Linked DNA regions of Homo sapiens: regions 2 and 3 are each linked to region 1. Evidence: fine-mapped expression QTL. A gene starts in region 1. Each other region holds a variant in brackets. All regions are shown on one strand. Distances are between the middles of the regions.

Region 1 (8,185 bases):
GCAGTCTTCTCACCTCTGCCTCCCAAAGTGCTGTGATAACAGGCATGAGCCACCACATCCGGCCTCTTAAAATCTTATTTTCCAATTATTTATTCAAGTGTTTTTAAAAAAAACAGCTTTCTTGAGATATAATTCACCCATCTACACATTATAATTCAGTGGTTTCCAGCATATTTAAAGAGGTGTGCAACCACCACTACAGTCCATTTTAGAACATTTTCATTGCCTCAAAAAGAAACCCCATACCCATTAGCTATCATCCCTCATTCCCCAAAGCCCTGGCAACCACTAATCTACTTCTGCTTCTATAGATCTGCCTATTCTGGATATTTCTTTTCTTTTCTTTCTTTTCTTTTTTTTTTGAGATGGAGTTTCCCTCTTGTTGCCCAGGCTGGAGTGCAATAGCACAATCTCAGCTCACCGCAACCTCCACTTCCCAGGTTCAAGTGATTCTACTGCCTCAGCCTCGCGAGTAGCTGGGATTACAGGCATGCGCCACCATGCCTGGCTAATTTTTTGTATTTTTAGTAGAGACAGGGTTTCTCCTTGCTGGTCAGGTTGGTCTTGAACTCCTGACCTCAGGTGATCTGCCCACCTTGGCCTCCCAAAGTGCTGGGATTACAGGCTTGAGCCACCGTGCCCCGCCTGGACATTTCTTACAAATGGAGTCTAAATGGAATTTATATAAAATGGACATTTCATATAAATATAATATGTGACTAGCTTCTTTCACTCAGCATACTGTTTTCAAGATTTATCCACATTGTAACTTGTATTAGTACTTAATTCCTTTGTTACATTGTTACAGCAAAACAATATCCCATTGTACAGAGATACTGCATTTTAAAAATTCCATTCATCAGCTGATGGGTATTTGGGTTGTTTCTACCTTTTGGCTATAGTGAATGGAGCTGCTATGAACATCTGCGTACATTTTTTTGTATGAATGTATGGTTTCATTTCTCCTGGGAATATACTTAGGAGGGGAATTGCTGGGTCATGTGGTAACTGTTTAATTGTTTCTTTTAAAAAAATTTAAATAAACCATGGCTATATTAAAGCTTTTTCTATGGAGATGGGAATGAGCTGCAAGAGAGAGAGTGGACAGCTGAAGCCTCAAAGGCCTTGAGCAAGAGAAAAGGGATAAGATCCAACACACGAGTGGAGGTATGAGGCAATAAGAGGAGAGACACCCTTCCTCCTCTGTAGCAGAAGGAAATAGATGGTGCACATGGAGATTAGTTGGTGTTGGCAAAAAGAAGAGGAAGTATAGTCAGCCCTCCATATCCACGAGTTCCGCATTCATAGAATCAACCAACTGTGGATGAAAAATTCTCAGAAAAATAATACAACAGTAAAAAGTAATCGAAATTTTTTAAAAATATAGCATAACGACTATTTACATAGCACTTACATTCTATCAAGTATTATAAGTAATCTAGAGATGATTTAAAGTACATAGGAGAATGTATGTAAGTAATATGCAAATACCACATACATCATTTTATATCAGGGACTTGAGCATCTGTGGATTTTGGTATCCTTGGGGGTCTTGGAAGCAATACCCCATGGATAAGGAGAGACAACTATGTATGTCCAAGGGCCTCCATCAATTCCGTGAAGCATGAGCAAGGGCGGAGGAACGGGAGCAGGGATTTGCCAGGGAAAAGTAGTAGTCTCCAGAAACTGAAGCCTAGAGAGAGATGTGGCCAGACCGCTGGGGCTCATGATCAAGAATGAAAGTGAAACCAGTCAGTTCCCTTGTGAGATTCTTTCCCACTAATCAGAAGCAGAAAATGTCATCAGGACTGGAGTTGGGCCAGGCAAGTTCAGAGAAAGGAGAAAAAAAAAGCTGAGATAACAGCAAGGGACGGATTATAATGATGGGCCATGGAATCTGGGCTAGCTGAGGTGACAAAGGCAGGCAGGAGGACAGAGGGTGCTGGGTATTCAGGAAGCAGTGGAAGCCTCAAAGAGGCGGAAGTAGTATGGGGCACAGGGTTGGGGGCAGGGGTGCATGAATAAGTGTGCCAAAGGCCAGCAGGATGTTAGACACTGAGACTTTCTGTGCCAAGGTCCAGGGTGTGGGCATGCAAGCCGGAGGCTGAGGGGGAGTGAAGCAGAGGATGCTGGAATCAGGAGCCCAGAAACTGAGAGGATGGGGTTGGACTAGAAGGTCTGTAGGTGACAGCAACCAAGAGGAGCAAAGAGTGGTATAAGGAGGTAGTACAGGCTACAAGAGGATTCCAATGGTGTGAAAGCAGCAACGCAGACCAAACAGATGAGGGACAGGCATTGTAAAGGGCAGAGTTTTCTTTCTTTCTGTTTTTTTTCTCTTTTCTAGGTAGAAGTAGAAGTCAGCAACTCTATGGCTGCAGTGGAAAAAAATGGGGAAGATGGTGTAGGTGTGGTGGGTTTACCGGCTCGTGATACCCAAAAGTCTGGGGACCCCTGATACAGTTCAATTTTTTAAGACAGGGTCTTGCTCTGTCACCCAGGCTGGAATGCAGTGGTGTGATCACGGCTCACTGCAGCCTCGACTTCCCAGGCTCCAGTGATCCTCTCACCTCAGCCTCCTGAGTAGCTGGGACTACAGGCATGCACCACCACACCCAGCTAATTTTTGTATTTTTTTGTAGAGACGGGGTTTTGCCATGTTATCCAGGGTGGTCTTGAACTCCTGAGCTCAAGCCATCCTCCCACCTTGGCCTCCCAAAGTGCTGGGATTACAGGCATGAGCCACCGCGCCCGGCCCCAATTCCTTTCATTTTTTTTTTTTTTTTTTTTTTTTTTTTTTTTTTTTTTTTTTTTTGAGACGGAGTCTCGTTCTGTCGCCCAGGCGGGAGTGCAGTGGCGCGATCTCCGCTCACTGCAAGCTCCGCCTCCCGGGTTCACGCCATTCTCCTGCCTCAGCCTCCCGAGTAGCTGGGACTACAGGCGCCCGCCACTGCGCCCGGCTAATTTTTTTGTATTTTTAGTAGAGACGGGGTTTCACCGTGGTCTCGATCTCCTGACCTCATGATCCGCCCGCCTCGGCCTCCCAAAGTGCTGGGATTACAGGCGTGAGCCACTGCGCCCGGCCGTCCTTTCATTTTTGAGATTGGGGAGCACAAGCTGGCCCAGTGTCACACCACGGCAGCTGATCCAGGACTCAGATCATCTGCTTCCCAGGCACTGCTCCTTTCCAGTGCCCACCCTGTGCCTGCTGATAACTACTGGCATGTAGACTGACTGCTAAAGTCAATTTGTGTTAGGAAGCCACTTCTGGCTGTCCCTCTCCGTCCCTTACTGGGCAAAAAAATTTCCTACTCGATCTACTTAGTAAGTGACATTGCCAAGATCTGAAGACAGATCCGGCTGCCTACCCCATTCCCAGCTACCCAAAGTGCCTTTAACTGGGCACTTAAGGTGCTATTTTAGCCCTAACTTCCCTTGGCTTACTCTGTCATCCTTACGGCATCCTATAGCCAAAAAAGAGCTGATGAGCTGTTCAGCGAGCCTTACCCTCAAACAGGCCACACAAGAGTCTCCCTCCCTCCCTGCCTGTGCTCATGATGCTCGCTCTGCATCTTGCCCCAGTATCTCTTGTAGAACTCTTTCCTGTAACTTTCCAAGCAGGGGTAACAAACTCAAATGCCCTCAGGAAGCAGACGGGTAGAAGAAAGCTTCTACTTCACTAAGCTGGGTTGGGTCCCGCATACCACCCCTGAACCGCCTAGACCCTTGATCAATCTCTCTCTCTGCATCTGTTTATGAGGCCCCGGCGACCACAAGACCAGATAGCCACCCCGAGTGCTGGGTGACCCGCCGCTTCCTCCTTCCGTCCCCGCCTCAGGCGCTTACCTTGGCCACCTCCCAGGCGTCCACGGGCCAGCGGCCCGGCCGGCAGTTTCCCCAGTGCACATCTCCATTTCTGTTGACATGATGTCTCAAAATCTCCCTTTTCCATTCAGCGCACACCTGACACTGAGGCTGAAACTACAGGGGGCGGCGGTGAGGAGGGGCCCAGGAGGGAGGGACGTCGCGGTGGGCCCCGCATCGCGGAGGGAACAGGACACTTGCGCTCTGGGTCTGGGACAGGAACGGGGATGAGGAGGGGTGGGGTGGGGGCGGTGGTCAAGGCCCCGAGCCAGGTGCTCACCTGGCGGGCGCGAGGGCTGCACCGTGAGCCGCCGCGGCAGACGGCGCGGGGCCCCAGGCCGGGGGCTGCGGCGAGTAGGCCGCGGTGGAAGGAGAGCACCTCGCGGCCGACGAAACCCTGCAGGCAGCTGCGCAGCAGTAACAGGCAGTGGCCCGCCTTCACCCAGTTCTTGTACTCGGCGCAGTTGAGGCGCGCCGCTAGCTCCGACAGCACCATGTCTCCCACTTGGAACCAGGAGGTTGCGGGGCGTGGCGGACGGCAGTGCGCAGGCGCGGAGCCTGGGAAGTACCCGAGGCAGCGGCGCCTGCGCCGGCGGCAGCGACGCCTGCGCCTGCGCGGCGCGGTGCCACCGATCCCGGGGCGGGGCATCTTGACTTCCGGGGCACGTCGGCTCCACCCCACTTGGGTGACGTCTGACGTCTGACGTCTAACAACTTTGGTGCTTGGGGAAGCAGTTAACTATTTGAAACCCTTAGGCCCTCTTCGTCCCCCAAACAGAGACCCTGTCAGCATCCGATTCGACTCCCTCTCCTAATGTAGGGCACTTCTGTTTTAACTTTTTTTTATTGTCCAGATGTACAAGGTGCTCAGGGCACATTGCTTGAATCGTGTATGTTCTTTGCATTATACAATTCTAGAGTTACTGGTTCCTAAGCCCACAGACCAGCTGTAGCAAATTGAGGTATTAGTGAAACGTGACCGCTGGCTGCCTGCGGTGTGCCAAGCTAACCCAAAACTCAAAATCCCCCGCCACTGGACCACCCAGAAGGGGGCGTTTGCCTGTTTAGGGCAACACATCACTTGGATTCTAGAAGGCTGCACACCTGAGCCAGATAAGGGCATCCTGAAGCACCTAGCAAAGGTTAGACGATAATTATCTAGTATTCTTGATTATATGATAATTAGTGCTCCTTGCACATGGAAGTCTGATTTAAGTTCCAAAGAAGTGCCACAAAGGTCAGAAGGCACTGGGATTGTCAACTCCAAGTGACAAGTCAGGTCAGTTTTAGTTGTTTTTAATGAGCTTTCTGAGCTTGGAAAACATGTCAAAATTGTGTGTAGTTAAAAGCCTCTGAGGAAAGAGTCTAAACATTAAACCTTCCCGACTGTGGTTCACAGCAAAAATGTCCAGTGTTTAGGAGCACTAGCTCAGACTCAAACTGCCCCTTCTTAGCAGTTTGATCTTAAGCAACCTTAATTTGATCTCAGGCAAATTACATTTCTCTGGGCCTCCATTTACTCATTTTTAAGAAGAGGATATCAATAACCTACCACATTGGGTTGTTGTGAGGATTAAATACACATTGAAATATTAAGAAAATGCCTAGCACACAGTAAGCTCTCAGTAAATACTTGCTATTATTTTATATTGACCTAAATATGCCCTTTCATCAATCAGTTATATTCTTGGGCAAGGTATTTTAACAAATCACTGGCCACTTGGAAGTGGAGGCAACTTGCAGAAAATTGTGAGCATACCATGGAGTTCCTGGAGTTGTGCAGCACAGTGCTGGCTGGCCTCTGCTAACTTTGTCTTAATAACCTCAATGCTAAATCCATCCTAAGTAAATTTAAATCACATCCTTAGACACACTGTCCATTCTCAAACCGAATGAAAAAAAAATTCCACAAGAAACAATGAAATACACATTAACATTTTCCCTCTATGTCCCTTGAATGTAAGTTCTCTTAAAATTTTCTGTATACTGATTTTATATCAAGAACACTTGGATGATAAATAAACATTAAGGTAAAATGTAATAGGCACTTCTTTTGGGGGGAAAAACTATGAAAGGAACAACTTTTTATATTGAAATTGCATCAGAATCCAGGGTAGCAAAGTTATAACTTCTTGAAGTTATCAAATTAACCACAGTCCAAAGAATGGCTGTTAGTATCCTTTGGCTGAACAGATTACTGTGTTAATTAGAACACAGTTATTAGTGGTTCTTAAATTCAAAGTCATATAAATTTTAGTTTATGCTTGCACTTAACTCACTCAGTTAATTTTCAAACATAAGGTTCGACTCCTGTTATTAGCGACTTGACACGTTCTGCTGAAGCTCTCACTTTTCTTCTAATTCTGAAAGTACTTTTATACATTCTGAAATGGCATTTCAGCAGATGGAAAAATGAAGGTGGCAAATCAGGACCAATTTCTTATTTCAAGGTTAAATTAATACTAAACCAGACTATTAATGAAAACATCTTCATCAAAATTAACTAGAGAGTTGGTAGTTCTCTGAAACTTTGTATAAATTTTATTTATTACTGTAAATACTAAAATCACATTGAAAACACCTTAAAGTTAAGTCCCAACCCGATTATTAGAGAAAATCACTTGGGCATCCAGTCCCCTTGATCGAACCTGGGTAACAAAAGAGGCAAAAGACATGATTTGTGATGAAACTTACTATTCAAATGCTAAATGTTTTCAAGCTTTAATAAGGTATATATCAATTCCAAGTACCAAGCATAATATAAAAATTCAAATTCATGGGTTTACTCTTAATAAGCATCAAAAGCAAATTTTGCGCACTGAATCCTATCTTACTCTTGATTGGCACAATGCATTCAGAGATGAGTTATAATTAGGAAAAAAGAGTGTCCACTGAATGCATCATGTGTAAAAATGCAATTAACATTTCAAAACCACATTAAAAGGGAAAATACCTAAAAAGTTAACTCTTAATAAAATTATTTGAAACAATATTATCCTGCAGATAAAAATACATTTCTTGTATATACATGTAGATTTCTACATGAAAGAAAAGATTCAGCTCCAAATAGAAAAGGGCTGACCCTTGATAAAGACATCTTAGATTGCCAAACTGATGTGATTACCACTGTAAGAACTAAAAACAGAAGGATAAAAAGATTAAGTTAAAGGAAGGATAAAAGTTTAGTCAACTGCTCCTGAACAGTGGCAGAGTTGGGTGAGAAGTGGGAGATGAAGGCAGAAATAAGACAAAGAAGAAAGGCAAAGAAGGCTTCAACTCTGATTGAAAATGAGTGGAGAATCAAACAAAGTTGAGAACAGATATGATATAGGTACAGTGAGATACTTGAAACTAGAATTTGATAGTTGATAGTTATAGAAGCTCAATTAAATCATCTTGAAGTGGAATTAGACAAAGCATCTACATTTTAATGGAGAACCAGTATTACAGTGACCAGGTAACTCGGCATGGTATTATCACTTAAAAATTTTTCCTAAATACCATGAAGTCGGTAGAAGACCTTTGCATCAGACCATGTTCTTTGAAGCTTAAAAAAGTCCCTGACTGACTAGGAAAGACAGCACAGTGCTCCAAAAAGAAACCCTGCAGAGATGTATTAATACCAAAAACTCCATTTGACCCTGGACAGGCCCAGGATTCGGGATTCTTCACAATGAGGGGAATGGACCAGGTTTCTTCCAAGCAAAACATTCTATCGTTTTGTTGACAATGAATTAAATTGAAATTGTTTAGAACAATCCCAATTTTGGTGGGGAAGGAAAGGAGGATAAGTTAAGCAAGATAAAGAAAGCTCACAGAAACTTCATGCAGAGGTACAGCATTAAAGTTCTTTGTTTCCTAATTAATGTTGTATGCAGAAGTATTCTGTAAACTAAATTTTCCTGACAGAAAAGTTCCCACATCCTCAACAGATGAGAATGATTGCATTATTTGGGATCCTTGATCAATACGAACCACATACTGTCCCTTCTCAAAGACTAAGTTCCTTATTTTTCACCCAAATCCTATATATTGAAAGACAACCAAGGTGCTAAATGTTAACCACTAGTCAAGTTAGGAATGTCTGAAGAAAATATATTAACCTTGACATAAAGAAGATGTTTTTGGTCAAATTTCAGACATGTATTATTATAAATTAATAACTGGCTCCATCCACCAGGTTAAAGATGAAGGGAGGGCCTAAGATGTCTCTAGAGTTTATATACACACAAGTGAGTGTCACTGTTTTGTTTTGTTTTTGACCTAGTTTTATTAAATATTGCTTCCTTGGGGTGTGTTTATAACAACTCCCAGAACATTTCAT
Region 2 (8,185 bases), 220 kb after region 1:
GGGGAAAGCAGCCAACTGTGGTAAATTAACAGCTTCCACACAGTCAAAGCTGTTGGTTAGAACTCAAAGGAGCCCTTTTCCTACTTCAAAGATACTGCATGGCAGGCACCAGCATTGACCGGCCAGATAGTTTTCAAGGAATGCTTGATACAGGCCAGCAAACTAAGTGCCAGAAATCCTGGGACAGAGACTTTTGCCAAGAGATTCCCTGCTCTGGTGAGCTGAGCTGAGCTGAGAGATGGCTCTAAATGTCACTGATTAATCATGAAGGGTGCTTCTCAGCCATTCCAACACTCTGCTTTTGCTCCTTTTCAGGTCTTCACCCTTCGGCCCCTTCTAGAAAAACCCCAAGTGACTGCTGTCTAGAAATATCCTCAGATAATTGGCTTGGCTGATGCCCAGATGTCCCTTGTCTTATATTAAGGTGTTGGGGAAGGAGGCAGGGACAAGTTACTCTTCTAGCTCTTGCATTGTATGATTCTGTTATTCTAAATTTTGAGAATTTTTTTCCCTTTTAAAGAGTGAATTAATTCTATTTTGACAGCATGACTTGGATCCCATCCAGGGAAAAGAGGTAGGAAGTTCCAGGGATGTGAGTCATCTATCCACCGGGGCTGGAGGCAGTTCTTCTGTTCTTATCCCATGACAAGGACAAACTCTCTGTCAAGGTCAGATCATGTTCTGAATCCATACTCACCAGGCAGCCTGCCATTTCCAATGGCAGCTTCTCCTGGGGCTCAGGAAGGAGGGCTTAGGTGAGGCACCTGGACAATTTGGTCCTTAGAAAAGGGTGTTCCTCTGACTGTGAGTTAAGAATCTAATATCCTGTGTGAGGTGGGAAAAAGAAGTGAGTGCATGGCTGGGTCCTGAGTTTGGGTGGTAGAAAAGGTCTGTTTATAAGATGGAATACTATACAGCAGTATTGACATGGATGCCCTAGAGCCACATTAGCAACATGGACTAATTTTTTTAAGCTTTATTTTATTAATTGACACCAAAAACTGTACATATTTATGGGATACAATGTGATATTTGAATACATATATACATTGTATAATGATCAAGTCAGGGCAATTAGCAAATCCATCACCTTAAACATTTATCATTTCTTTGTGGTGAGAACATTCAAAGTCCTCTTTTCTAGGAAATTTGAAATATACAAAATATTGTTAACTATAGTCACCCTACTGTGCCATAGAACACCAGAACTTATTCCTATCTAACTGTAACTTTGTCCCCATTGACCAACCTCTTTCCATACCCCATCTCCCCACCCTCCCCAGCCTCTTGTAACCACTACTACTGTCTACTTCTATGAGATCAACTTTTTTAGATTCTGCCTATGAGTGAGATCATGCAGTATTTATCTTTCTGTGCCTGGCTCATTTAACATAATATCCTCTAGGTTCATCCATGTTGTTGCAAATGACAGAACTTTATTCTTTTTTACAGCTGAATAGTATTCCATTATGTATATATACAATATTTTCTTTATCCATAGTATTCCATTGTATATATTTTATTTTTATTTATTTGAGACAGAGTCTTGTTCTGTCATCCAGGCTGGAGTGCAGTGGTGCGATCTCAGCTCACTGCAACCGTTGCCTCCCAGCTTCAAGCAATTCTCCTGCCTCAGCCTACTGAGTAGCTGGGATTACAGGTGCCCGCCACCATGCCCAGCTAATATATATATATATTTTTTTGTAAAGACAGGGTTTCACCATGTTGGCCAGGCTGGTCTGGAACTCCTGACCTCAAGTGATCCACCCTCCTCAGCCTCCCAAAGTGCTGAGATTACAGGTGTGAGCCACCACGCCTGGCCCCATCATGTATATATACAACATTTTCTTTATCCATTCATCCACTGATGAACACAGGTTGACTCCATATCTTGGGTATTATGAATACTGCTGCAATAAACATGGGAGTACAGATAACTCTTCAACATGCCAATTTCATGTCCTTTGGATATATAACCAGTAGTGGGATTGCTGGATCATATGGTAGTTCTATTTTTAATTTTTTGAGGAACCTCCAATACTGTTTTCCATAATGACTGTACTAATTTACATTCTCACCAACAGTATGTAAGGGTTCCCGTTTCTCCACATCCTTGCCAACACTTATTATCTTCTGTCTTTTTAGTAACAGCCATTCTAACTAGTATGAGATGATATCTCACTGGTTTTGATTTGCATTTCCCTGATGATTAGTGATGCTGAGTATTTTTTCGTATACCTGTTGGCGATTTGTATGTCTTCTTTTGAGAAATGTCTATCCAGGCCTTTTACCCACTTTTTAATCAGATGGGGTTTTTTTTGGCTATTGAATTGAGTTCCTTCCATATTCTGGATATTAACCCCCTTGTCAGATGCATAGTTTGCAAATATTTTCTCCCATTTTGTAAGTTGTCTCTTCATTCTGTTGTTTCCTTTGCTGTACAGAAACTTTTTAATTTGATATAATCTTACTTGTCTATTTTTGCTTTAGTTGCCTGTGCTTTTGAGATTCTATCAAAAAAAATCCCTGCCCAGACCCACACCCTGAACCATTTCCCCTGCTTTCTTCTATCAGTTTCATAGTTTTGGGTCTTACATTTAAGTTTTTAATCAATTTTGAATTGATTTTTGTATATGGTGAGAGATAGGGTTCTAGTTTCATTCTTCTGCATGTGAATATCTAATTTTCCTAGCACTATTTATTGAGAAGACTGTCCTTTTCCCAATGTGTGTTATTAGCAACTTTGTTGAAAATCAGTTGGCTGTAGATGTGTGGATTGATTTCTGGGCTTTCTATTCTGTTTCAGTGGTCTATGTGTCTGTTTTTATGCCAGGACCATGCTGTATGCTGTTTTGGTTACTATAGCTTTGTAGTATATTTCCAAGCAAGATAGACTAATTTTTAAAACATAATGTTAGAAAGGAAGAACAAGTGACAGGACACATAGAAAGTGCTACCATTAGGCTGGGCATGGTGGCTCATACCTGTAATCCCAGCACTTTGGGAGGCTGAGGCAGGAGGATTGCTTGAACCCAGGAGTTTGAGACCAGCCTGGGCAACAAAGTGAGACCCTATCTCTATAAAAAGTTTTTAAAAAGTTAGCTGGGCATGGTGGTGTGCACTTGTGGTCCCAGCTGCATGGGAGGTTGAGACAGGAGGATTGCTTGAGCTCAGGAGGTCAAGGCTGCAGTGAGTCATGTTTGTGCCACTGCACTCCAGCCTAGGTAACAGAATGAGACCCTGTCTCAAAAAAAAAAAAAAAGTGCTACCACTTATAAAATGTTAAAATATGCAAAAATATCAAATCATTTAGGATAAACATATATCCCTAATGATTTATAATAGGATATAATGTCTATAGATTTATAATATACGTATATGTGATCTACATGTAATAAAATAATAAAAATACACATGGAAATGATAATACCAAACTTGTAGCTGTTTTGGGGTAGAGAATGAAAGTGAGACTTGGTACAACAGAGGGCTCAACTATATCTGAAATGGGTTTTTTTTTTTTTTTTTTTTCCTTTTGGAGACGGAGTTTTGCTCTTGTTGCCCAGGCTGGAGTGCAATGGCGCGATCTCGGCTCACCACAACCTCCGCCTCCTGGGTTCAAGCGATTCTCCTGCCTCAGCCTCCCGAGTAGCTGGGATTACAGGCATGCGCCACTACGCCTGGCTAATTTTGTATTTTTAATAGAGATGGGGTTTCTCCATGTTGGTCAGGCTGGTCTCGAACTCCGGACCTCAGGTGATCTGCCTGCCCCAGCCTCCCAAAGTGTTGGGATTACAGGCGTGAGCCACCGCAGCCGGCCCTGAAATGTTTTCTATCTTCAGCTGGATGTTTGTTACATTGTTCTGTATACTTTTTGTATATCTGAAGTATGGTTTTTAAAATAATTTCAACTTTTATTTTAGATTCAGGAGGTACATGTGCAGATTTGTTACATGGGTATATTGTGTGACACTGAGGTTTGGGGTACTAATCATCCTGTCCCCCAGGCACTGAGCATAGTACACAATAGGTAGTTTTTCAGCCCTTGTCCCCCTTTTCCCCTCCCCCTTCTAGTAGTCCCCAGTGTCTATTGTTCCCATCTTTATGTCCTTATGTACCCAATGTTTAGCTATCACTTATAAGCAAGAACATGTGGTATCTGGTTTTCTGTTCCTGTGTTCATTTGCTTAGGATAATGGCCTCTAGCTCCATCCATGTTGCTGCAAAGGACATTATTTCATTATTTTTTATGGCTGTGTAGTATTCCATTGTGTATATGTACTACATTTTCTTTATCCA[G/A]TCCACCATTGATGGGCATCTAGGTTGATTCTATACCTTTGCTATTGTGAATAGTGCTGCGATGAACATACAGGTCCATGTATCTTTTTTTTATAGAATGATTTATTTTCATGATTTTTTTTTAAGTGGAAAGAAAGGTTAAGTTTCAGTAGGCTTGAGTGAATGTTAAAGCATCAACTTGTGTATTCACTGGGACAGTCCCTCAATTATGACTGTACAAGTTGCTGATGTCCCATGAGCAAAATTACCTCTGTGTCCAGGGACTTTCCTCCTGATTGCAGCTGAAGCTATAAATATTCTCACCTCTACCCCTGCATCATTGCTGGGCCCACCCCTGCTCCTTTTCCCTTCGTCTTTCTGTCACTGCTGGGAAGCCCCTGCCTTTGCTCAGACTTCTGGATGCCTTCCAACTCATTTTCCTGTCCTGCACACTCCAATCCCCCATGGTGTAGGAATCCCCACTTCTGACAGTAGAGCACAGTAGGGAGGAGAGAAGGTGAGCTGAGTTTCTGTTCTCACAAGAAAACTTAGAGTGGATTTTCACCAGGAAATAACACTCTACCAAGTAACTGGTTCTTGACCATCATTAATACTAGCGTCTCATTTCCTGTGGGTGGCGTGGGCTCTGGTGGTGTGCTTAGGAACCAGTCATTCATATAGAACTGAAGAAAATCTGTTCTGAATTCTAAGACAGATTTTCCAACAAACTTTTGGATCAATACCAAGTTTTAAGTTGTCAGTTCCCTATAAAGCCCTAGGGGTGCCTAGCTTAGCTAAAGGGAAAGAATTCAAGGTTTCTGTGGGTGAAGTAAGACAGGGAACTTCAGGGGAACTCCAGAAAGAATTTCCTGGGAAATAAAATTGCATCACGGCTCACCTGCCTGAGCTGCTTAGAGTGTTCATGCTTCTACTAAAGAAGCCTTCTTCTCTCTGCAGCCCCACATTTTAAATACGAACAGTATAATAACAAACTCCACCAAGAAGAGCTGATCATTCACCACACAATGTGATTTCTAATTGCTTGAATAATACCGTATGATGGAATAATTTCCTACCCAGTAAAAATGATTTCTTTTTTTTTCAGAGTGATAATATCCTGTTAAAATATAATGCCATTCTAGACAGTGACTACACAATGGAGTGGTTTTTTTTTTTTCCTATATATAACCTTTAAATGCTAAGCATTAGGATCAAGGCAGTAGCAAGTGATAAAACAAGTTCCCAGATGAAGAAAAGAATTCTTTGGGTCTATGTTGGAATCTAATTACCCAACATCCTTGGGTAAAATAGTGAGTTGACAAATTTATGATACATAGATGGTCTTTGCTCTGTTTCTTCAGAGAAACTCAGTTGCACAAGAATGGAAATGGATTTTTCCATAAAGCTGGTGTGCAGTATAACATCTATATTTGGACAGGCACACACACACCATGTTGCTAATTTTAATGCGCCAATTAAATCCTCATTTTGTGCATCACTGAACCCATAAAAGCAGATTTTTTTTCTTTAGAAAATGAAATTGCAAGACATTTGTTGTCTAGTGACCTACTGTGCCAATAGGTATGTAGAGCATGAGGTGCTCTCTAGGAATACAGAGGAAAGTGAAGACGTGCTTTCCGTTCGTGAGGCATTTAGAACGCAGTCAATTACAAGTTCAGAGCAGAAAGCAGCCTCATATCAGAAAGATGAGAAAAGTGAGGCCTAGAGAGAAAGAATGACCTTCCAAAAGTCACACAGCCAAGGAGTGAAGTTGGTCAGATGAAAACCAGCTGTCCAGAAATGGAGCTCAAAGGCTAGCCTCTCAACAGCAGCCCTTCACAATACCCATGTGGAGGCAGGGACAATGCTGCGCTAGATTAAAATGTTTCTCTAGGTTGGGCCATGTTCCTGGCATATAGATTCTTCCATGGGGCTCATGGGAGGCTCCTTCGCTGGGCCCCTTTGATTGCAGCTCTGGTGATGCTCACCATACAGTGTTTCTCTAAAATCCACACCCCTTTTGGCTTCTGGTTCTTGGGCTGATGTGAGAGAGTGGGAGTAGAGGCTCGAATCCACACTTTCTTTAAGAAATCCTCTTTGGAAACACTTAAAACTGTTGTAGCTTTTACAGACACCACCCCTATAACTCTGAAGTCCCACTCCTAGATGTATGTGCAAGAGAAATGTGTACATATGTTTACCAAAAGACATGTGCTAAAATATCCGTAGGTATTCATAATAGCCCCCAGTTGGAAACTACCCAGATGTCTATCAACAGTAGAACGGATAAATTGTGGAATGCTCACACAATGGGATGCTATACAGTAGTGAGAATAAACGATCTACAACTACATACAGTATGGATGGCTCTCATAAATAGAATGTTGAGCAATGAAGTGAGCCACTAAGGGGTACACACTGTATGATTCCATTTATATAAAGAACAAAAAGAGGCAAAAATAATCTGTGCTATTAGAGGTCAGGATAGTAGTTACCCTTGGGGGTAGTAGTGACTGAAAGCGGGGTACAGAGACCTTATGGGATGCTAGTAATTAATCTTCTGGTTTTGTTGGGATATTCAGTTTGTGAAAATTCATCAAGCTATAAACCTGTTGTTTGTGCACATTTTAATATGTATCTTATATTTCCAAAAAGATTAACAAAAGAAGACTCCAACCTTTTTTTCTTTTTTTTTTCAAGAGTGGGTCTCACTCTGTCACCCAGGCTGGGGTGCAATGGTGCAATCTCATCTCACTGCAGCCTCCACCTCCTGGGCTCAAGCAATCCTCCCACATCAGTCTCCCAAGTAGCTGGGACCACAGGCGTGTACCACCATGCCCAGCTAATTTTTTTTTACTTTTTTTTTTTTTTTTGAGGCAGAGTCTCGCTCTTGCCCAGGCTGGTATGTAGTGGTGCAATCTCGGCTCACCAAAACCTCCGCCTCCCAGGTTCAAGCGATTCTCCTGCCTCAGCCTCCCAAGTAGCTGGGATTACAGGTGCCTGCCACCATGCCCGGCTAATTTTTGTATTTTTAGTAGAGATGGGGTTTCACTATGTTGGCCAGGCCGGTCTCAAACTCCTGACCTCGTGATCCACCCGCCTCGGCCTCCCAAAGTTCTGGGATTACAGGCGTGAACCACTGCGCTCAGCCGATTTTTTTTACTTTTGTAGAGATAGGATCTCACTATGTTGCCCAGGCTGGTCTCAAACAATCCTCCCATCTCAGTCTCCCAAAGTTCTGGGATTACAGGTGTAAGCTGCCATGCCTAGCGTCCAGCCTCTTTTTCCCCCATGGCTCCCACATGCAGAGGTGCAGCCCGCTATCACAGGCTGTCTTAATTCAGGCTCTGATCCTAGCTCCCCAACCACAGAGAACACACAGTTACCTCTTCAAGGGTCCCTTTAAAGTACCATTTCACGGACTTAAGGTTAAAAGGGGGCTCCCCATCACCTCAGGGGTCGGAGAGGGATGCCCACAGCATGGCAGTAGCCTTATCTAAAGAACCTTCTTCACAAATCCTTCTTACTTCTACCCTCTCTTGATGCCTTTGTAGTCAAAATTGTTGAGGGCATTTGAGAGTCTTAGAGCATACCTTTTGTAAAGTCAGCCTCTGTAGATCTGAGCACACTCCTTTTGGATGTCTCTTGTATTGGTGCAAAACAGCATTGGGAAGGTCCATTTTCATATCTTATTACGTAGGTAAATAAGAAATCTATCCATAATAATGGCTTGTCACATTCATGTAGTGCTTGGCCTTTATAAAAGAGAATGCAGATCTATTGCCTTAATATTCACAGCAACCCTACAAGGTAGGTGTTACTCTCGTGTTACAAGTGAGAACATTAAGACTGGTAAAGGAGAGGTGACCTGCCCTGCCTGAGCTTACACAGGCACTACATGAAGACAGGG
Region 3 (8,185 bases), 100 kb after region 1:
TGCACCAGCACATGCCACTAATTTTTTTGTATTTTTTGCAGAGACGGGGGTCTCACTATGTTGCCCAGGCTGGTCTCTCAAATTCCTGGGCTCAAGCAATCCTCTGGCCCCAGCCTCCCAAAGTGCCGGGATTACAGGTGTGAGCCACCAAGCCCGGCCAATATAGATTAACTTTAGATTTCAAACCAAGTATGCCAAATTTAAGAGAAACTACTACAAGAGCACAAATGGGTTATATGACTTCCAAGCCAGAAGAGGAAAAAGAAGAGAAAAAATGAAGCATGGCGAATCCAATAATTGGCATGAAATGAGGAGGAAAAAATAAAGCAAAAGAATGGGAAATAGCATAAATTAAGAAAAAAAGAAATACTAATATATCAGTAATCACTATAACTATGCATTATTTTATTTGCACTAGGGATATCCCCCTTGTAAAGAGACCAAATAAATTGCAGGTCAGTTCCTTTAACTCTTTCCTTCTTGCAAATGTGTGTATGGGCATGCATGTGCATGTGTACACACGTGTACATTTACACACATATTTGTTTCCACATCTGTCTCTCTCTCTCTCTCTCTCTCTCTCTCTCTCTCTCTCTCTCTCTATATATATATATATATATATATATTAAAGCCATGAGTTCATACTGATACCTCATATTTCAATCCAACACCAGAGGTTCATTCTAGTCTTCCCCCTTTCCATATTTGTAACTTCCTTTTCTGACAGTGAACAATCTGGCTCAATATACTTATTTGCTCAATCCTAGAATACATAGAAAGTCGTTTCAGAATAGATAATCTATACCATTGTGAAAAACTAGCCTTCTGGGTTTGGAGGACAGTGGCAATACTGCCTCATTCTGAATCTCCCTACTCACCCCTCTCTCCACAAATAAACCTCATGAAATAAAGCAACATATGACTGATATAGTTTAGCTGTGTCCCCATCCAAATCTCATCTTGAATTGTAGCTCCCACAATTCCCACGTGTCATGGGAGGGACCTGGTGGGAGGTAATTGAATCATGGGGGTGGGTCTTTCTTGTGCTGTTCTCATGATAGTGAATAAGTCTCACGAGATCTGATGGTTTTGTAAGGGGGAGTTTCCCTGCACAAGTTCTCTCTCATCTGCTGCCATGTAAGATGTGCCTTTCACCTTCCACCATGATTGTGAGGCCTCCCCAGCCACATGGAACTGTTGAGTCCATTAAACCTCTTTTTCTTTATAAATTACCCAGTCTCAGGTATGTCTTTATCAGCATCACGAAAATGGACTAATACAGTGACTTATTCCTTCATCAGTATTTGGTAAAAGAGAATATTCTGATGTTTAAATTACTTGTAAGCAAAGAAATAAACCAAATTCTAATAGAGCTCCTGCCATCTGCCTGCTGCTGCACGCCTGTGGGTGCAGAGTGCAGAGGAGAAGAGGCGTAAAGAAATGCCATGAAAAAATATAGTGGGGCATAGAGGACTTGGATAAGGCACGGACAAAATAACCCTTAGAAAGAGAAAGCCAGATAAGATAAATGCCAAAATATAGAATATAGGTCAGGATATGGTAAGTTCATGTTAGTTTGTTATGCAACGATAGAAAACGAATATGGATTTTAGTACCTGAAAGTGTGGTGCTGCTATAAGAAATACTTAAAAATGTGGAAGTGTCTTTGGAACCAAGTTTGAAGAGGATTTTGTGGAGCATGATAACAGCCTAAGTTGCCTTGAACAGAATGTTAGTAGAAATATGGACTATGGGAAGGCGGCTGGTGAGGCCTCAGAAGGAAGTGAGGCTCATGTTATAAGAATCTGGAGGAAGTGAGATCCTTGTTATGTATTGGCAGCAAGCTTAGCAAAACTGAAACTTGTGTCCTGCAGTTATTTGGAAGGTAGAATTTGAAAGCAATGAACTCACATATTTAGCTGAAAAGATTTCCAAGTAAAGTTGTTTTTGCTTGTTGTTTTTTTTTTGGTTTTTTTTTGTTTTTTAGAGGCAGGGTCTCCCTCTGTTGCCCAGGCAGGAGTGCAGTGGTGCAATTATGGCTCACTGCAGCCTCAAACTCCTGGGCTCAAATGATCCTCCTGCCTCAGCCTCCTGAGTAACTGGGACTACAGGCACGTGCCACAACACCTGGCTAATTTATTTTTATTTTTATAGAGATGGGGTCTCACTGGATTGGTCAAGTAAAGTGTTGAAGGTGCCATCTAGTTTCTTCTTGCCGATTATAGTAAAACCCAAGAAGAGAGTGACAAATTGAGGAAAGGACTGTTAAACACAAAGGAATTGGGTAATTCTCAGCATATCAAGATTGACGAAGACACTAAAATTAAGAGACAAAAGGTTAGAGTATTTGATCACAAGAGGTTTATGCTGTGCCTCACAGATCTCATTCAAATCAGTGGCTTCTAGGAAGCTTAAGGGTGTCCCTGAGCCATCTCAGCAGCAGCCAAAGCTAGAGAAGGAATGATCTCTACCAGATTTGTGGACATGGCTTCTGTTCAATGTAGTGAATTCCTATGACATCCACTCAAAGCAGACAAGGTTCTTGAGAAATTTGTATCAGCAGAAATACTGCCAGCTTGGACTGAAAGTGACAGAGTTTGAAGTGAAAGGAAGCTGTCAAACTCCCAGAATTCCTCTGGCAGAAAGGAGGTTGATAAAACTACTCAGCTGTAAACACATTCTACCTTTCATGAAAAAAGGACGGCTCAGAGAGAGGAACTGAAAGCCCAGGGGGCACAGGCGAGAGCCAGAGGGCAGAACTGAAAGGCACGTGGAATTATTTCCAAGTCTTGAAACCCAAGGGAGTTTCCCAGCTTTTAAAACTGCTTTGGACTGGTGATCCTTTTTACCTTCCATTTTCCTCCCTTTTGAACTAGAATGTCTGTAACTCTTACCCTATGCCTGTTCCATCATCATGTGTTGGCAATAGATAACTTGTTTCTACAGTTTCATAGGTCCACAGATGGAGAGAAATTGTGCCAGGCGTCTCACCCACACCTAATCTAAGTGATTTGATGATGAGATATTGGATTTTTGAATTCATGAGATTTAGATGAGAGTTTGGACTTTGAGTTTAAGCTGTAATGGTATTGACACCCTTGGCAAATTTGGGAGAAGGTGAATGTATTTTGCATTTAGGAGAGACATGAATCATTGGGGGCCAGAGGGCAGACTGTGGTAAACAGAATTGTTCTTTTTATTTTTTTATTTTTCTTTTGAGACAGGGTCTTGCTGGGTCGCCTAGACTGGAGTGCAGTGGCGTGATCATAGCTCACTGCAACCTCGAACTCCTGGGTTCAAGTGATCCTCCCTCCTCAGCCTTCTGAGTACTGGGACTACAGGCATGCATCAACACACCTGGCTAATTAAAAAAAAAAAAAAACTGTAGAAACAGGAGTCTCCCTGTGTTGACCAGGCTGGTCTCGAACTCCTGGCCTCAAGTGATCCTCTTGCCTCAGCCTCTCGTAGTGTTGGGATTACAGGCATGAGCCACCTTGCCTGACCTTGATGTTTGATATATGTTTACATTGTGGAACGATTAAATCAAGCAAATTAACAAATTCACCACCTCAACTACTTAAACATCTCCGCTTTCCATGTCTACCCCTCTCCTCCAGCCTCTGGGAATTGCCATTGTACTCTCTACTTGTATGAATTTGACTTTTTAAAATTTCACATGTAGGTGAGATGGTGTGATATTTGTCTTTCTGTGCCTGGCTTATTTCACTTAACATAATGTCCTCCATGTTCATCCATGTTGTCACATGTGACAGAATTTTATTCTTTTTAAAGGCTGAATAGTATTCCATTGTGTATATATACCACATTTTAAAAAATCCATTCATCCATTGATGGACACTTACCTTGCTTTCAAATCTTACCCTCTGTGAATAATGCTGCAATGAACATGGGAGTACAGATATCCACTTTGACATACTGATTTTAATTCCTTTGGATTCCTTTTTTTTGAGACAGAGTCTCTCTCTGTCACCCAGGCTGGAGTGAAGTGGCGCGATCCTGGCTCACTGCAAGCTCCACCTCCTGGGTTCACGCCATTCTCCTGCCTCAGCCTCCCGAGTAGCTGGGACTACAGGCGCTCGCCACCACGCCTGGCTAATTTTTTTGTATTTTTAGTAGAGACAGGGTTTCACTGTGTTAGCCAGGATTGGATTCCTTTTAATCCCAGTAGTGGGATTGCTGGATCATATGGTAGTTCTATTTATTGTGGGGCTTTTTGAGGAAATTCCATAATATTTTTCATAATGGCTATATTAATTTATATTTCCACCAACAGTGTACAAGCATTCCCTTTTCTCTACACCCTTGTTAACACTTATTATCTTTTGTTTTTCTGATAATAATTCTATTATCACCTATTCTATTATAGATTTCATGATATTCTATCATATCACCTCACATTC[G/A]GGTGTAAGATGATATTTCCATTGTGCTTTTAATTTACATTTCCCTGATGATTAGGGATGATAAGTGTTTTTCATATATCTGTTGAACATTGGTGTATCTGTTTTTGAGAAATGTCAAGTCATTGGTCCGTGTTTTAACTAGTTTGTTTTTTTTTCTTGCTATTGAGTTGTTTGAGTTCCTTATTTTGGATATTAGTTTCTTGTCAGATGTATGGTTTGCAAATATTTTCTCCCAGTCCTTGAGTTGTCTCTTCATCCTGTTAATGGTTTCCTTTGCTGTGTGGAAGCTTTTTAATTTGATCCAATCCCATTTGTTTATTTTTGCTTTTGTTGCCTTTGCTTTTGGGGCTATTGTGGAGCATTTCCCCCATGTTGTGGAGCATTTTCCCCCATGTGTTCTTCCAGTAGTTTTACAGTTTCAAGCTTTATGTTTAAGTCTTTAATCCGCTTTGAGTTGATTTTTGTACATGGTATAAGAGTCCAAGCTCATTTTGCATGTGGATGTCCAGTTTTCCCAACACTCCTTATTGAAGAGATTGTCCTTTCTCATTGTGTGTTCTTGGCATCTTTGTCAAAAATCAATTGATTGTAAGTGCTTGGGGTTATTTTTGGGCTCTATTCTGTTCTATTGGTCAATGCATCTTTTTTAATGCCAGTACCATGCTGTTTTGATTACTACAGCTTTGTAATAGATTTTGAAGCCAGGTAGTATGATGCCTTCAGCTTTTGCTTTTGATCTTTGGGCTCCAGTTTTTTTGCTCAAGATTGCTTTGGCTATGCAGGGTCTTTTGTGGTTCCATACAAATTTTAGGATTGCTTTTTCTAGTTCTGTGAAAAATGACATTGTAATTTTGATAGAGATTTAACTGAACCCATAGATTGCTTTGGGTAGTATGGACATTTTTTAACAATATTAATTCTTCCATACATGAACATGGGATACTTTTTCATTTATTTGTATCTTTTCTATTTCTTTCATCAATGTTTTATAGTCTTTAGTGCACAGACCTTTCACCTCCTTGGTTAAATTTACTCCTAAATATTCAATTTTTTGATGCTATTGTGGATAGCATCAAATTTTCTTAATTTCTTTTTCATATAGTTTATTTTTAGTGTAAGGAAAGGCTACTGATTTTTGCATGTTGATTTGGTATACTGCAACTTTACTGAATTCATTTATTAGTTCTAACAGTTTTGGCATGAGTTTTTTGGGTTTTCTTTATGTAAGATTATGTTGTCTGCAAACAGGGGCAATTTAACTTCTTCCTTTCCAATTTGGCTGTATTTTATTTCTTTCTCTTGCCTCATTGCTCAAGCTACGATTTCCAGTACTATGTTGAATGGAAGTGGTGAGAGTGGGCATCCTTGTCTTGTTCCTGATCTTAGAGGAAAAGCTTTCAACTTTTCACTGTTGAGTATGTTAGTTGTGGGCTTTTCATATATGGCCTTTATTGTGTTTAGGTACGTTCCTTCTATGCCTAATTTGTTGAGAGTTTTTATCATGAAAGGATGTTGAATTTTCTCAAATGTTTTTCCTTTCTGCATCTATTGAGGTGATTGTATAGTTTTTGTCCTTCATTCTGTTATTATGGTTTATCACATTCATTGATTTGCAAATGTTGAACCATCCTTGAATCCCAGGGATAAATCTCATTTGATCACGGTGAATTATCCTTTTAATATGCTGTTTAATTTGGTTTGCTCATATTTTGTTTAGGATTTTTGCATCTATGTTCATCAGGGATATTGGCCTGGAATTTTCTTTTTTGGTAGTGCTATTGCCTGACTTTGGCATCAGTAATGCTGGCCTCATAGAATCAGTCTGGAAGTATTTCCTCTTCTTCATTTTTTTGGGAAAAAGTGTGAGGAGGATTTGTATTAGTTATTTAAATATTTGGTAGAATTCGACTGTGAAGCCATCTGGTCCTGGGCTTTTCTTTGATGGGAGATGTCTTATTATTGAGTCAATCTCATTGCTTATTATTGGTTTGTTCATATTTTCTGTTTCTTCTTGATTCAGTCTTGTTAGGTGTATGTTTCTAGGAATTTATCCATTTCTTCTAGGTTAACCAAATTTTTGGCATATAACTGCACATAACAGTCTCTTATGGTCCTTTGTATTTCTGTGACATCAGTAATATCTCCTCTCTTATTTCTGATTTTCTTTATTTTAGTCTTCTCTCTTTTTTTCTTAGTTGGTCTGGCTAAAGGTTTGTCAATTTTGTTTACATTTTCAAAGAACCAACTTTTAGTTTGGTTGATGTTTTCTATCATCTTTTTAGCCACTATTTCATTTATTTCTGCTCTGATCTTTATTATTTCTTTCCTTCTACTGATTTTGGGCTTAGTTCGTTCTTCTTTTTCTAGTTCCTTGAGGCATAAGGTTAGGCTGTTTATTTGAGATTTCTTTTTTTTTTTGATGTAGGCATTTGTTGTTACAACTTCCTTTGGTGATGTCTGTGTAGCCTTGCATTTGAAGGAGCAAACCCTTCTTTCAGTCTTTACAGATACATTTTGGCAAGTTAAAGTGTTCTCCTGTTAGGTATTGTATTAGTCCATTCTCACGTTGCTATAAAGAAATATCTGAGACTGGGTAATTTATAAAGAAAAGAGGTATAGTTGGCTCACGGTTCTGCAGGCTGTACAGGAAGCATAGTGGCTTCTGCTTCTGGGGAGGCCTCAGGAAGCTTCCAATCATGGCAGAAGGCAAAGGGGGTATGAGGTGTCTCACATGGTGGGAGCAAGGAGCAATAGAGAGAGGGAGGAGGTGCTGTACACTTTTAACAACCAGATCTCATGAGAACTCTATCAAGACCATGAGGACGGTACAAAGGGGGATGTGCTAAACCATTCATGAGAAATGCACACCCATAATCCAACCACCTCCCACCAGGCCCCACCTCCAACACTGGGGATTACAATTTGACATGAGATTTGGTGGGGGTACAAATCCAAACCATACCAGGTATCTGGGTTGATGAGATTGCCTCCAGGATCCCAGTTGAGTAGGGTTGAATCTAGATCATGTTGCTGGTGCCGGGTCTGCAGTGGAGACCAAAGTTAGTGGGCATGGGTCCTATATGGTTCCCTAGTGGAGTGGACTATTTCCAGGATCTTGGTCTGTGGGGCTGGTGCTAGGATGAGGATCCACTTCAGGATTCACAGATGGCAGGCCTGTTACCAGGTGCACTGATGGGTGTGGCTTCCTCTGTGATTCTGAGAGAGCTGCTGTTGGATCACTGGATGAGTCCCTAGGCTGGCCATATTGCTCTGGTCCATGGCTGAGAGGGGCTAGAACAGAGACACAGGATTGTTTCAGGGTCCGCAGCTGAGATCGAGATCTTCAGTCCTGTCTCCAGGGTCAGGGGTGGGTGTGTCTCCCGGTGGGCTTCTGGGTGAGCAGACCTGCCATCAGACTGCAATTGAGAAGGGCTGGAGTCTATTTATAGGGCTGTTTCAAGATCCACAATGAGATCGAGGTCAAGGAATCAGCCTTCAGGGACACTGCGAGACATGCCTCCCTCCAGGACCAAGATCCAGGGACTCAGAAGGGCACGTCTCCTGGCGGGATCCCAGCTGGGCAGAACTGTTCCCAGACCACAGCTGGGAGGGGCTGAAACTGAGCTTCAGTGCTATTTCAGAAACTGCTGTGTGACTGATATTGGCAAGCCCAACCTGGTGGCACCATCAGGCAAGACTCCCAACAGTTCCCTATGTGGGAAGGATTGCTCCAGGACTGCAGCTGAGAGGGGCTGGAGCTGAGA

Alleles and levels. Positions count from the first base shown, and alleles are read on the strand shown. Sizes are in standard deviations (SD) of each study's normalised expression. Not every link is listed here.
For the expression in caudate of the gene that starts at base 4,398 in region 1, allele A in region 2 goes with a lower level than allele G (moderate effect, 0.75 SD a copy in GTEx).

Evidence for each region. PIP is the estimated chance that this variant, and not a neighbour inherited with it, causes the effect.
Region 2: its variant is fine-mapped to the expression of CXorf38 in caudate (GTEx, PIP 0.99).
Region 3: its variant is fine-mapped to the expression of CXorf38 in whole blood (TOPMed, PIP above 0.99).

What each region holds. Positions count from the first base shown.
Region 1 is chrX:40,643,164-40,651,348 of GRCh38, forward strand. It overlaps CXorf38 (chromosome X open reading frame 38), which reads right to left and starts at 4,398. Exons shown (of 7, transcript NM_144970.3): 1 at 4,142-4,398; 2 at 3,844-3,978. The coding sequence starts at 4,357. MED14 (mediator complex subunit 14) reads right to left here. Exons shown (of 31, transcript NM_004229.4): 31 at 5,142-8,185. RefSeq lists silencers at 1,074-1,368, 4,029-4,178, 4,299-4,598, 4,434-4,614 and enhancers at 1,662-1,891, 3,579-3,778.
Region 2 is chrX:40,866,928-40,875,112 of GRCh38, forward strand. No RefSeq gene overlaps it. Among named protein-coding and RNA genes, the nearest start is that of MED14OS, 140 kb to the left of the region's middle. RefSeq lists enhancers at 157-656, 4,643-4,722. The variant G/A (reference allele first, on the strand shown) is at 4,297.
Region 3 is chrX:40,747,353-40,755,537 of GRCh38, forward strand. No RefSeq gene overlaps it. Among named protein-coding and RNA genes, the nearest start is that of MED14OS, 16 kb to the left of the region's middle. RefSeq lists enhancers at 2,468-2,547, 2,618-2,707. The variant G/A (reference allele first, on the strand shown) is at 4,422.